Regions from separate parts of the Homo sapiens genome. Here region 1 is linked to region 2. Evidence: fine-mapped expression QTL. A gene starts in region 2. The other region holds a variant in brackets. All regions are shown on one strand. Distances are from middle to middle. Region 1 overlaps MOBP (myelin associated oligodendrocyte basic protein). Region 2 holds the start of SLC25A38 (solute carrier family 25 member 38).

Region 1 (4,390 bases), 120 kb before region 2:
ATCATCATTCATGCAATAAAATACTACACAAGGAAAAAGAACAAACTGCTGACCTGCTGACATACATCAACACATTTTGATCTCACAGACATACCATTGAACAAAAGAAGTCAGACACAAGAAAACAAGCTGTGTGTACAGGAGGTTCAAGAACAGGCAAAACTAATCGATGGTGCTAGAAATCAGAGCATAGTTATATTTGGAGAAGGTGGGTTCCGACTCAGAAGGGGCAACAGGGGAGCTTGCTGGAGACTGAAAACAGTCCTTCTAGGAATGTGACAGATGCAGAAATAGTCCTACCTAACACTGCAAAACACCGAAGCCCACAGGGGACTTACGTGACTATCAATCAACAGGAATCAACTTAGTTAATGGGCATAAACTGGATACTGAGAATGTCTCTGCTCTCAACAAACTCAGGGTCAGGTTGGAGATGCATATGTGCAGTATGTAATTACAAAACACTGTTATGTTGGCCAATACAAGTGTGTACAAAGCATGGAAAAAGGATGGATTCCTTGAAGACAGAACCTATAATCTGGGTTTTTAAGGATGAGTACAGAACAATAACTAAATAACTTTGAGGGGATATTTTAATTTTTTTGTCTGTTGGTGTGGTTGTCTTCTACTACAAATAGAAATGACAGCTGAGAAGCAGGTAGAATGCAGTTACAAATACGTTGTTTTTGCACCTCTGTTTGTGATCATCAAAATTGTGTGTCACATCTGTTATGTATGTTAAAAATATTCTTTCCCAATGTTTCACTTGATTTTATCATGCAAAAATAGTTTTATGTAATTAAGTATCTTAGATCTTATTAAAGGTTTTGTATTTTTCCCAGAAAGTTTTCCCCATTCTGTCAGCTTTTAACATACTCATGATGCCCCATTTTAAAAGAAAATCCTCTCTGGATCCTGCTCCCGTGTCTTTTTGCTTCCCTATTACCCTCCTCTTTTGTATAGGTAAAGTTCTTGAAAAGGTATTAATATTTTTTCCCTCCATCTTTACATCTTCCACTCACTCACTCATCAGTGCACCCCACTGTGGCTCCTGGCCCTTTCCTCCCAAGGAAAAATGACTCTACATAGCTCCCCACAGACCTCCATGCTGCTAAACCAATTGCCTTCATATTTGGTCTCTCTCCATCTAAAGTCTTTCCTTTCCTGTGACACCACATTCTCCTAGATCTCCTCCTCTATCTCTAGTCTCTCCTTGTCCATTTCCCTTATAGGCTCATCTGCTTTTGGCAAATCTTTCATTTTTTTAACACTAAACTTTTAATGTTAGAGTTATTTAAGGTGTAATAAATACTAAATAATAAATGAAGTTACCTTCACCCATTTAATTTAACATTTACTATACACTTTGGTTTTGCCTGGCACAGTGCTCAGTTCACATACTGGACACAAAGCTAAATCATGCTGAGTCCAGTCCTCAAGAAACTTATCCACCAGTGGGAGATACAGGCAAGTAAGTGATTAGAATGCACATAATGTGCTAATGGCCAGAAAAACTTCATTTACTGAGACCAAATAAGTACAAGTCACTGAGATGAGGAAGTGGGTAGAGCAGATAAACATCCTGCTCACAATGAGCTCACCTTGTAGGTAGAGGAATGTCCACAGACATCAGTGAGTGTCATACAAGGCCAGCATGCTCTGCAACATGAGAATGTGCTGGTGCAATGGCATGAAAAGTCCACAGAAGAGAGGGCAATATGTTGGGCTAGAGAACAAGGTGAAACTTCATGGGCAGAGGCATTTCATCTGGCCAAAGATGAGGGCTTGGGAATGACTGATACCTAAGCAGATACACAGTGAATTGCATTACCCCCGAGAGCCCTCATCCTATCTGCATTGCAGAATTGGAAGACATAATAGAGCCAGGACACAGGCAATGAGGCAGGTGAAGTGTCTAGCCCATGTGACTGGGAACACAGTCATGCCATCAGCTAATCAGAGGTCGAAGTAGATGAGAAGGAGGGAGATCATCTCATGGGTCTGAGACACAATGAGTTTAAAGAGCCAAGGACATCCATGAAGAAACAGGCATTCTAAACTCAGGACCTAAAGCTCTCATTTTGAGAGCGCTTCACCTCATGGAAGGGGGCACAACGTCGGGCACGGATGAGATACCTGTGAACTCAGCGAGGAGTCAGTCAAGGGAAGGCTTCCAGGAGGAGGCGTGGACCTGCCTTCAAGCTGCAGGAAGAAGGAGTAATGGGTATTCAGAAAGGTAGGATGA[G/A]TAGCAGTCTCCTAGGAGAGAAATTGCTGAATTTTCAAAAGGAGATGATCAGATATATTCAAAGGAGCCCTTTACCCAGACAGGTATGTATAGACCAATGAGAAGCTGCAGCTGACTTATAGGGTCAGATTCATTGCAAAGACCCTAAACGTCTGCTAAGCCCTTCCCCAAGTCCTACATAGGTCGCGAAGTTCAGCTAGAGTTTCTCCTCCCATGGGAAATAATGAAGTGAAACACTTTAGGATTAACCTTCAGGAGTAATTTCTTCAGGTGCCCAGCACATGGAGACTGTTACTCAACTCTCCACAGGCAACCCAGGCATTCCCAATTCCTCTGGCCTTCTAGGGTCACCTTTTCCCAAACGGCTCAGGCACCCGTCACAAATAACAGAAAATTTAGCTCTTACTCCAACTGTTTGAGAAATAACTAGTATGTGATAAGAAGGAGATTTGAAGCCCACTGTGACTCTGAATTCCTTCCCTAATTGAATTCTCAAATCCCACTCACTGCTCCAGCTGATGTAATGCCTGGGTCACTGTATGCCCATCTGCACCCCCGCCCAGTCATTTCTTCCCCCAGCACTTCAGGGGAAAATTGTTTCTTACTCCATGACAACTTCCCTCACTCCCTGTCTCCCCCGACCATGTCCGGCAGGGGGCAGCATCACCTCTAGTTATCCATCGATGCATGGTCCTGAAGGAAAAAGTAATTCTCTTCCCTGGAAGAACCTCGCCATTCCTAACACAACCACCTGAAAATGCATCCAACTTTCAAAATAATGTTTTCTCCCTCCTTTAGTAAAATGTTTATATTTTTGAAAAGACTGGCGGGCGGATCACGAGGTCAGGAGATTGAGACCATCCTGGCCAACATGGTGAAACCCGGTGTCTACTAAAAATACAAAAATTAGCTGAGTGTGGTGGCACGTGCCTGTAATCCCAGCTACTCGGGCAGCTGAGGCAAGAGAATCGCTGGAACCCGGGAGGCGGAGATTGCAGCGAGCTGAGGTCGCGCCACTGCACTCCAGCCTGAGAGATAGAGCAAGACTCCGTCTCCAAAAACAAAAAAATAAAAACAAAAACAACAACAACAAAAAACTGCCCTCCTAACTCTTTTCCCAGGTGGCAGAAATACAGCACTTAGTTGGGGTACCTGCTTAAGCAGTTCTATATACTGCTTCCCCAACTATCGGCCCCATGCCACCCTCCAATTTAAAAACGCTAAGCCTCACATGCTAAATCAGAGTCATCGTTTTATAACACACCAGGATTGCTAGTAAATTCCTTGGAAATACAGGCTGTTAAATTAAGTTTAGCCTAAAGCCACATCCTTACATATTTTAAGTTCCACCTAACGGTTTATTTGTACATAGTAAACCGTAACCTAACCGGATGGGTACATTGTAACCCAGTCTTATACCAATCACAGAGTTTTAGTCAATCACAGACAGCCAACAGTGTTCAAATAGGCAAATTCCAGCTGTAAGCAGTCCAGCTGTTTCTGTACCTCACTTTTGGTTTCTATTTGTCACTTTCCTTTCTCTGTCCATCGATGTTTTCTGACCGTGTGGTGGCCCTGGAGTCCCTCTGAAACTAATCTGGTTCTGGGGACTGTCTGATCTGTGAATTGTTCTTTGCTGAATTAAACTCTGTTAAATTGAATTTGTTTTATTAAAGTTTTTCCTTTAATAAAGCAAATAACTAACAGCGAAGAAGTAACAGTTTACTGAGCACCATTGTGTATAGTTGTTTTGCATACTTTATCTCATTTTTTAATGTGGCATTATTAACAAACTAAAGATGGAAAATCTACAGAACATGACTAAGTCCATAAGCCAGTAAGAGGCAGCAAGGGATTTGAATCCACATCTGTGTGACTCCAGCATCCCAAGCACTTTAGACAGGTCCAACACTGTTTTGTGCTTCCTATAGACTCAACCCTCCTCCCAAGGAATAGGAGTCCAGGTGCTGGGCCCAGACTAGACTTCAGAGGACTAGAGATGGACCCAGGGGTGGGATAAGTCTCAAAGATCCATGAGTCTATGTCCTAGGGTGACAAAGACTGAAAGTTGGGGAAACAAATCACTCCAGAAGAGAAAGATAGAGAATGGAGTTTGGAGACTTCACAACAACAGAAACCAGGACT
Region 2 (4,390 bases):
TGCTGCTGTCCTTGACCTTCCCACCCTTGATTGCAGGAAATATCTTCTTAACGTCTTTTATTTCACAGCACAGTGATTAGACATGTTATTGGCTCAAGTTATTGAGCCAATAACTTTTTTAGCTTTGTACTTTTCCCAGTCCATTAGCACAGAGCAGATGTTATTTATACTAGCAGTATAGATCAACTTCTAATAGGCAAAAACAAGACAACAACAACAACAAAAACCATCCCAACAGGTAATACTGAATGGTCTTAAGATTTTTGTCAATGGTGAATGGCACACATCCTTTGCGAGTGAACTTAACTTTTAAAAAGTAGCTCAAGGCCAAGCGCGGTGGCTCACACTTGTAATCCTAGCACTTTAGGAGGCCGAGGCAGACGGATCACTTGAGGTCAGGAGTTCAAGACCAGCCTGGCCAACATGGTGAAACCCTCTCTCTACTAAAAATACAAAAACTAGCCGGGCGTGGTGGCGCACGCCTGTAATCCCAGCAACGTGGGAGACTGAGACAGGAAAAATACTTGAACCCGGGAGTCAGAGGTTGCAGTTGAGCCGAGATCACGCCACTGCACTCCAGCGCGGGCGACAGGGCGAGACTCTGTCTCAAAAAAAAAAAAAAAGAAAAAAGAAAAGAAAGCTCAAAAATATATTCAAGGTAAATAAAAAAGTAGTTTCTTTTTAAGGGGAGAAAGAAGAGGGCATAAACAATAATACGCACACGAAATAAGTAGCACATAAGAGTACAAACTGGATCCACAAGCAATTCCTACTGCCCTGAAAAAACTATCCTAAGTCCAATTCACATCTGGAGGCGAGGGCTGGAGAGCCCTGAAAAAGGTAAGCAGGTTTTCAAAGACGTCAACGTAAAGTCGCCACCGCCGCCGTCTCCGCCTTTAAGGATTAAAAAAAAAAATAAAAGCCGCCCCTACCTCGGGCGCAAGACCTCAGAGGGAGAGCTGCGGCAGCTGCAGTGGCCTCAGGCCTTTAGCGTCTAAAGACTGGTTGCACCCCGACTCCACCTACCGGGCAACCACGCCGCCAGCCCCGCCTCCGCCTCCACCAATAGCGGCCCGGCGGCCCGGGCACGATGACCAATCGAACGCCGGAGGAGGCGTGGCGTCGCTGGGGGACCACGCGCCGTCCCAACAGGCTGGAAGGGTGCCGCCACGACTGGCCCCTCCAGGTAGGCCGCCGCCCGCGGGCGCACAGCGCTACCCGGCCAGCTCGCTGCGGCATCAACGGCTTCTCAGCGTCAGCGCTATTATCAGGCCTTGTGACCGTCCCAAATCTGCCCGGGTGCCCTTCCACCTGGCAGCCTACTCGCACCTTGTGGGGGCCGCGCGGGCACACTCCCCGGCACGCGTCCAGTCCAGGCCCCGGCAATTCCGCCCTTTACCGGGACATCGGCCCTACAGCGCCTGCCCCCAGGGCTGGCCTGCAGCTCCTGGCCTCTCCTCACTCCCTGCCCCCTTCTCAATTCCCTTAGTCAGACTCCTCTCCCGCCGCATCCTAAATCCTGAGCGCACCCTGGGGCGCGGAAAAGGGTAGCCGAGCCTTAGCAACGCCCCGAATTCTCCGGCCCGAGCCCGCGGTTCGGACCCCTGCCCTTCCTTCCCCGCAGTGCCCTCACCATAAGCGTTTCCACCGTGTCTCCGACATCTTGGGGTTGCAGCAGCGACGGACGTGAGTTCTGAATCATTGGAGATGAGGCCCGCGAGTCCTCTGGGCCCAGGGTGCCGTCGACGGGCGCTTGGGCCCAGCCCTGGAGGCCTTGAAGAAGGCTAGGGGGTGGCGCTAGCCAGGCGACGCGCTTTAAGCCGCGGGCTCTCTGACGTCTGCGCCTATAAGCACGCAGCCGCCGGGGTTCGGATCCTGCTAGTCCAGGGGCTGCGGGCGCGGAACAATCTTGCTGCGGGAATTACGCGCCGCTCTTCACCCGCGCCGCAGACTCCGCGGCTCTGCTCTCCTGCCCATCCTGCCCTGCTGCAGGCTTCAGCACCGTAGGAGATGAGGTTCTGTGTATCCCGGGGTGGAGGAAGCGCCGGAGGAACTCTGTAGAAGGGGAGATTTCGCTTCCGGGTGGGACGCTTGTCACGTGAGGGTGTTCTGAGTGCCACCTGGTGAAAACGCCCAGAACTGAAGGATCCGCGCTTCCTTGCACCCAGAACTTAATGGAGCGTCTGCAGGGAACTTTGCTTTTGCGTGGAACGTCTGAACGTATTTACAATCCAGACCTGGTCTGCCCAGTAAGGCAGCCACTAGCCAACGTGGGCTATTGATTTATTAATTGATACATTAATTTTAATTATATTAAAACAAGCAGTGTGGAATGCTTTCTCCTTAAACAGGCGTTTTTTTGTTTTGTTGTTTTTTTTTCAGGACCATATTTCCCTTTAAATGCTGAAAATTTAGTGTGGAATTGATATGTACTGTATGCATAAACCACACGCTGGATGTCTAAGACTGGTGAGGTAAAATCTCAATAATTTTTATATGTTGAAATGATATTTTGGATATATTGGGTTAGGTGAAATATTAAAATTAACTTCAGGCCGGGGGCAGTGGCCCAGGCCTGTAATCTCAGCACTTTGTGAGGCCTAGTCTGGAGGATTGCTTGAGGGAGCCAAGGAGTTGGAGACCAGCGTGGACGACAAAGCAAGACCCCGTCTCTAAAACAAATAATAATAACTTCATGTGTTTCTTTTTAAATGTGGCTAGTAAAACATTTAAACTTTAACATGTGGCTCCCATTACATTTCTGTAGGACAGCGCTGGTCTAGTTGGTCAAAATTCTGGTTTATTGCTCACCTGGAATCTGTCAATGGCTTTTTTGGTCTCCCAACTTCCCCTTATGCCTGTCTGGCTGATCCATGGAAAAGCATTACTGCTGGGATCCTGACACTCCTGTTGAAAATGCAGTGGCCCTGGTAATAAAGTCCAAGCTTTTCATAGCAACCTTCGCTACTTTCCACCTTCATTCATCACCCAAGAACTAGATCAGAAAGGAAAGTGACTTAGGGAGCAAGATAATATTTTTTCAGGCTTCATTCCTGTGCTTCTGAGGTACATAGAACAGGAAGGAAAGTGGTCCCAGAGGAGGTTATTCCCAGAAAGGATTAAGGAAAGTATAAACATTAAAAAAAAAAAAAAAATTACAGGCCGGGTGCGGTGGCTCACGCCTGTAATCCCAGCACTTTGGGAGGCCGAGGCGAGCCGATCACGAGGTCAGGAGATCGAGACCATCCTGGCTAACATGGTGAAATCCCGTCTCTGCTAAAAATATAGCCGGGTGTGGTGGCAGGCGCCTGTAGTCCCAGCTACTCGGGAGGCTGAAGCAGGAGAATGGCGTGAACCCAGGAAGTGGAGCTTGCAGTGGGCCGAGATCGTGCCACTGCACTGCAGCCTGGGCGACAGAGCGAGACTCCATCTCAAAAAACAAAACGAAACAAAATTACAAACCTGCCTGGTGATTGAATACTTTGCTACCCTTTGTTCTAAGCTGCAAGGCTTATTTTTCTTTGTGCAGTAGTGATGTTGATAACTATGCACTGAAACTTCTTTTTAAAGGAAGACCTAATTCCACCCTGACACCCACCCCCGCTGCACTGATTCCATAAGACAAGAATCCCTACTTTTGAGAAATCATGGGTTGGCGTATTTTAGAGACTGCTCTTGGCCACTCTGGGTGTGGGAACACAGGTGGGATCTAGAGTGAAAGCCGGCCCTCCACTCCCTCACCCTTCCAGGTATGCCTGCTTGGCTGTGGGCTCAGAAGAAATGGGCTGGCTTTCAAGGGTGGCAGCTGGCAGATTTCCCTCCTCTGTATCTGCTCCTGCCATGCTTACTCATAACTCTAAAGCCCACAGGCCCTTCTTTTCCCACATCTCCTCCCCTGGATGTTTGTGGGGATGCAGAGATATATAATGATCATGGGGAAAGAGCATCACCCATTGGCAGATGAGTGGGGGGTTTGGAGCAGTACTTAATGGCAAAGTTGGAGGAGTGAATTTTTTTTTTTAAAAAGAAAACATTGTGACTTTAATTCAAAACAAGGTCATTAGCATAAGGCAAGCCTTAATGGATTTATCTGCAGTCAAGGGAAGGTGATTTGGCTCTTATGACCTAACTTCCCTCAATTACACACTGGTCCCTCAAAGATCCAAAGTGGCCCATGTTTTCTGGATTGTATGATCAGGTTACATGATGTTTTCCCATCCCAAGGATTGTAGACACCCTCTACCCAGGAAGAAATACACATGTATCAGTTTGGATACATGACCTCCTCTTAAAACTTTATTCACAGCAAGTCTTGACATCTGGAGGAGTTTCCACCATCCAAGAAGGAAAAGGCAAAGGTCCACATGGGAAGCTGGAGGTGAATGGGAGA

What was found. PIP is the estimated chance that this variant, and not a neighbour inherited with it, causes the effect.
Region 1: its variant is the best candidate, but not a certain one, in a credible set for the expression of SLC25A38 in lung (TOPMed, PIP 0.66).

Annotation. Positions count from the first base shown.
Region 1 is chr3:39,497,279-39,501,668 of GRCh38, reverse strand. The region is part of intron 2 of MOBP (myelin associated oligodendrocyte basic protein); the gene reads right to left. Among named protein-coding and RNA genes, the nearest start is that of MOBP, 32 kb to the right of the region's middle. The variant G/A (reference allele first, on the strand shown) is at 2,246.
Region 2 is chr3:39,381,037-39,385,426 of GRCh38, reverse strand. It overlaps SLC25A38 (solute carrier family 25 member 38), which reads right to left and starts at 2,057. Exons shown (of 7, transcript NM_017875.4): 1 at 1,634-2,057. The coding sequence starts at 1,702. LOC105377644 (a long non-coding RNA gene) reads left to right here and starts at 1,102. Exons shown (of 3, transcript XR_007096252.1): 1 at 1,102-1,186; 2 at 2,383-2,474; 3 at 4,307-4,390. LOC105377037 (a long non-coding RNA gene) reads right to left here. Exons shown (of 3, transcript XR_001740661.3): 3 at 4,275-4,390. RefSeq lists enhancers at 849-918, 1,389-1,438, 1,449-1,548, 1,569-1,748 and a silencer at 1,009-1,158.